Linked DNA regions of Homo sapiens: region 2 is linked to region 1. Evidence: fine-mapped expression QTL. A gene starts in region 1. The other region holds a variant in brackets. All regions are shown on one strand. Distances are between the middles of the regions. Region 1 holds the start of TAFA1 (TAFA chemokine like family member 1). Region 2 overlaps TAFA1 (TAFA chemokine like family member 1).

Evidence for each region. PIP is the estimated chance that this variant, and not a neighbour inherited with it, causes the effect. A credible set is the group of variants that fine-mapping cannot tell apart.
Region 2: its variant is the best candidate, but not a certain one, in a credible set for the expression of TAFA1 in ileum (GTEx, PIP 0.53).

Annotation. Positions count from the first base shown.
Region 1 is chr3:68,002,671-68,005,599 of GRCh38, forward strand. It overlaps TAFA1 (TAFA chemokine like family member 1), which reads left to right and starts at 1,577. Exons shown (of 5, transcript NM_213609.4): 1 at 1,577-2,032.
Region 2 is chr3:68,442,454-68,445,382 of GRCh38, forward strand. All of the region lies in intron 3 of TAFA1 (TAFA chemokine like family member 1), which reads left to right. Among named protein-coding and RNA genes, the nearest start is that of TAFA1, 440 kb to the left of the region's middle. The variant C/A (reference allele first, on the strand shown) is at 1,253.

The sequences.
Region 1 (2,929 bases):
TTTTTGGATTTTTTTTCCATTAAATATTTTATCCCAGTGTTTAAGAATGTACTCTTGAGCCAAATCATTTGGGCTTGAAATCTGCTCTGTCTTTTACTACCACACAACCTTGTGCACGTTCTTTAATCTTCCTGTCTCCTCTCACATTCCCCATCTGTGAAACAGAGATAATAATAATACTTATCTTGTGGGGTTGGTAAAAAGAATTAAATTAGACTTTACAAGACATACTATAGAATGTGCTAGCATCTGGTGAAGGTTTGATAAACATTACCTGCTGCCACTGCTGTTATTATTTTTTTATCTTGATGCTGTACAGTCAGTGTAAACTTTCTGTACACACTCATGAACAATAATAATGAGGCACAGATGTGAAACATGCAACACCAACTAGAACTTTGACATTTTTAACTGTGAGATTAATATTTACTATTACTTAGAAATCTGTTTAGAGGTAAGATTTAGAGAACAGTTGTTATGTTACAAAGAGCTATTATGTGTGTTTTGTGCAATGTGAAAGACCAATTGGCAAGACTGACGAGTCTGAAGGATCCCTAACTCTCTCACTGTGTGTAACATGAGAAAACAGAATCACTTGCAAAGATGTGCAGCAGCATTGGACCTTCTTTATTGTGCCTCTGAAAGGCAAGAGAGTATTCTGGGGAATTTCAAAATGTTTCCAAGGAAGCAATATTATGAGAACTACCTTGATTTTGAAAACACCATAAAAGATTAGACAGTATCATCTATAACAGTGGGGATCTCATCAATCACGTTTTCTGCTTTGTTCCCAGGCACCTAACACATAGTAGGTGCTTTATAAGTGATTTGTGAAATAACTGAGGGTATTTCAGAGAATTATTACCAGCACAATCTATAAATGAAAACTAGGTCATCTTGTATTCATCATTGAAATTTAGGCAAAATTATACTATATTTCTGAAGAAGAAAGGGTTCAAACCGTAGTAAGAGGAAGAAGATGTTGAACTTCTGAGTGTTTTCCCTCCCCACCCCAGCATGTTATTTGAAGGAGAGGAAAAATTTTTTAAAAAAGAGCTGTGAGCATATTTCTTCATTTGATGCTGAAAATAACATATTTTTATTTATTAAACATGTTCAAAAAGTTCAGAAGGTTTTTATTGGACTTATGCATATACGCATCTATGTCCTATTCCAGGTAAATTCTAGTCTATTTAACTGCTGAAACAACCAGCAGACTTAAATTAGTATAAACCTGACAATATTTGTGGTTAATTTACTGGTAAAAAGAACATTAAGAGGTAAGAAATGGCTTATATTTCACTTTCCCATTTACTGTTAGAAGTCTAACTCCCACTAATACTATCAGTATTTTGCAGAATGCTTTTTTCTTGTTTCTCCTTCCCTCTTTACTCTTTTGTTAAATCAGTGGTATCAGTAGGACTTCTAATGTAATAAATCAGGCAATATAATGTTAAAGCGCTGCTTGAGTTGTTGAAGAGTTAGTAGGCAGATATTACAATTCACTGTAGCTGTAATAGAGGGTAATGTCACTTTAAGACATGTGATACTTTAGAGCGGAGGGATGTATTGAAACAGACTACTGCTACTTACAGCACCGTATAGCAGCCCTGCTCCTACATTTTGCTGCCTTACTCTGCCCCGAATGCACTGGAGTGGGGATGGTCCATCGGCAACTATAAACTGATTCTCATCAGGAAACTGCACATTATCTCCCCATCACTTCAAAGGTCTCGTCAGGCAGAGGTGACGCCAGGAGATGATTTAAAGGTGAAAATGACAAGGTTTCCACCCCTCAAACCTTGGCTCCTTTTCTGACAATACAGTCTGAATGAACCCGATGTCTTTTTTTTTACTGTGGAAATAGGATCGGAAGAGAGTAACATTTTTTTTTTTTTAATCCTGATAAAGAAGATTGTTGGGAAGCTCTTTGAAAAAAAATTTTAAATTGTGGCACAGATGGATTTTAAAAAGTGTTAGATCTTTCCAATGAACACTAATAGAGTACTCTGCTCTTGGCTGGATTTTTCAGGTAAGAAGCATCTTTAAGGGTTTAAGATTCAGAAAGCAGATCTGAAACATATCCAGGCATATCTAGAGAACTGTGCAAGGCTGAATGCTTTATTTGGGGAAGACGCTTAATAACATTGAGACAACCCCTTGGTAAAGGAGCAAGCAGTGAGAGTGACATGCAGGAGGCTTGGAAGTAATGCTGAGAATTTAAAAAAGTTAAATTAAAAAAATATATATTGCAAGCATAAAATCACAGTAATCCTTTTGAGTGGTAGGATCTATATGGGTGAAGAAATGAGCAAGAGAAAGCAGTCATTGAAAAACTATTAAGTTTTGGTTGTGGCAGGATTTTTTTTTCAAGTTTGGATGAATTTCCAGTACATTTTAACTGCAATTCACAAGCAGTAAATACATCCACAGTCACCTCTGTTTTGTCTTTCTGTAATTTGCAGGGTATTCTGAAAAAGTCCCCAAATACATTCATTTTAGGTTTCACAGGAGGGGTGTTGCTGTTTATTTCCACTGAAGAGAATGCATGTATGTTATCCCAATAGTTCTGAAAACAATAAGGCAAAGTATGTTGTATACAAAAGTAAACAGTGGGCAGTGAAACTAATTAGAAAGTGAATGCTCCATCTGAATCACAGACTTAGGCATGAATAGCACCAAGCTGTTGAAAATAATGTTTTCCTGCTTTGCACTTAATTATAGTTGTCACCATTTGTCTATTATAGTCCTAAAATCCTTCCAAGACTGCATCTCTCTGCTAAAATCCACAAATTAGCGTGCATTATGTGCATACATATGATGTATATTTTTGTTTTCTGAACATCAGTTTTTAATAAAGAACCAATTTTCATGAATAAAGAAGCCAGGCTGGGAGGTTACTAGCACGTTTTCAACGTATAGTTGAGAT
Region 2 (2,929 bases), 440 kb after region 1:
CTCAGTCATCTCTTGAAGGCCCCACCTCTCAATACTGTTAAGTTTTAGCATGAGTTTTGGAGGAGACATTCAAACTATAGCAATACTAATATTCTTATCACATTTCAATAACCCAGTAGAGTTTATGACACGTAGTGGCTACTAGTGAGTGAATGAAGGAAAAAAGAAAGAGGGAGGCAGGGAGGAAAGGGAGGAGAAGAAATCTATATTCTAAATCTACAAAATGTATGGGATGCTTTGCTAACAATAAGGTAGTATACACAAAATGGCTCAGTGTAGCCATCAGCACTCAACTAGTCTGACTGAAACCAGAAATGGATTTTAGTGCCTGCAGAAAAGAATAGATTAAATATCTCACAGGCAATCTTTACTATAAACTGTTTCTCTCCATCAGATAGCTGATAAGGATTGAGGGTCAGTAATTTCATGTTATAGTCCTGTATACCTCCACATTCTTGATTCAGTGGCTTGATGCAATAGATATTTACTTCTCATTCACATAAAAATTGATTCAGGTGTAGGGGTAGCTCTCCTCCATGTGGTGATACAGGAAGCCTCTGAATCACCTCTGTATCGTGGCTCTGTTATATATGACTACAAAAGGCATCCACATCAAGTGGCAGAGAGTAGAGAAGGCCCATCTACTTCGTAATTACCTTGGCTCGAAAATGACTCAGATTACATACACTCAAATTCCATTGGTAAGGGGTTCCACCTTGTTGCAAGGGGCCTGAAAATTGCAGTCCTGGGTAAGACAGCCTCTTCCTGGTAACATCCTTCCTCTAAGAAGCACAAGCACAGAACCCTGGAAGGCAGCTACCTTTTTCCCTCACTATTCTTATATCTGGCCACCAAATATCTGTGCCTACTTTTCCCAAAAAGAGACAGCCCTAAGTTCTACCCTTCAAGCATCTACCTCACAGTCTAGGATCTCCAGGTCATGAATAGTTTCTCCATCAGGTCTGTATTAGTTTGTTTTCACGCTGCTGATAAAGACACACCAGAGACTGGGCAATTTACAAAAAAAAAAAAAAAAAAAAAAACAAAAAAAAAGAGGTTTGTTGGACTTACAGTTCCATGTGGCTGGGGAAGCTTCACAATCATGGTGGAAAGTGAAAGCCATGTCTCACATTATGGCAGACAAGGAGAGAGTTTGTGCAGGGGCTCTCATTTTTAAAACAATCAGATCTCCTGAGGCTCATTCACTATCACAAGAACAGTGCAGGAAAGACCCGACCCCATAATTCAATCA[C/A]CATTCACCAGGTTTCTCCCATGATACATGGGAATTGTGGGAGTTACATATCAAGATGATATTTGGGTGGGGACACAGCCAAACCATATCAGGGTCTAAATGAGATTCCTCCTCATATTCTGACCTTCCTATAAACCACAACATGAGTCATCTATCCCTCACCGCATCCCAAATACAAAACACATAGGTGTTGTGTCAGGAGCAGAATAACTGCAATTTTAAAACTCCCTTTCAGAGAAGGGAAGAAAGGAAAAGAAGCAGTGATCACCATTTCCTAACAAAGTGAGATCCTGCCAGGCAGGCATTGTAAATATCCCCACTTGGGAGAAGCCCTTGGTCCCTTTCCTCCATGGCCCTGTCTCTACAGCCTCGACAGGTTTTCTTTTTCATCATCCTCTATGGCCTCATCTGAAGGGAGTGTCAGGCAGTGTGCCCACCTTGGAGCTCCATAGCTCTCATAACCTACTTCTTTATACAAATTTGGAAGTCCAAGGGTTGCTGTAGCCTCAAACAGTGAAATACGTTTTTTAAAAAAATCAGTGCTAGTCTTTTGGGTAAAATAGTTCTCTCAAGTACTCAGACAGTCCCTAGTCTTTCTTTCTCCCATAAGTTATACCTACCAGTGATCACATCCAATGTAATTCCCTAGAGTCCTCAAGTCTTCTTCTTTTTCTCTGTCACTCTCGTGTGACAAGCATTATTTTCTCACATTGTCCAGGTGAAGTCACAATACCTCACCTAACTGAAGGGACCCTGGGAATTGTAGCTCTTGGCTGAGCTTTCCAGTAACAATGCTACACCATGTAAGGAAGTACAAATCTTGGGTGAATAGTTAACCATTGTACTATAGCTCCCTAAGAATATTTGGAGGAATATGGGTATTCTATATGCATGTAATATAAAATGCTGCTGCTAGCTCTTCTTTTAAATACAGTGGCTCTCAGGGCCAAGTGTGGTGGCTTATGTGTGTAATCTCAGCACTTTGGGAGGCCAAGTCAGGAGTATTACTTAAGGCCAGGAGTTTTAGACCAGCCTGGGCAACACAGCGAGACCTTGTTTCTACAAAATATATATATATATATATATATATATATATATATATATATAAAATAAATTAATAAATAAATACAGTGGATCTGGATTTAAATCCCAGCTTCTCCGTTTATAACTTCTATGATCTCAAGCACTTCTCTATTCCTTCTGAATGCCACATTTTGTTATCTACAAAATATTGGTAGCTGTACTTACTTCACAGGATTGTTTAATTAAATTACATATTTATTTAACTGATCAATGATGGTTGAGTAATTCAAAAAGAATATGGACAGTTATCTTGAGAATAGAGCCCATATCTGTGTTCAGTTTTTGTTATAACCCAAAGATAATTAAACAAAACTTAGACATGCTGATATTTACATCTCTAAGACATTTCATACATTATAAACTTTGCATTTTGAGCATTTTATTTTCTTTGCTGCAGAATTAGCTGGTTTACTGTGACATCTGCTTAGCAGATTATGTATAGTACCTTTTCTATTTCTGCCATTTTTATTTTTGCATTTTGGGAAAGTGATAACGACCACTCCAATTTAGTTGGAAGAAAGCCTTCTGATTGCACAGTGTTTGATCCAAATTTGTGTAGTGGTAGGACGTGCACTTTTGTAGAATTCAGCACTG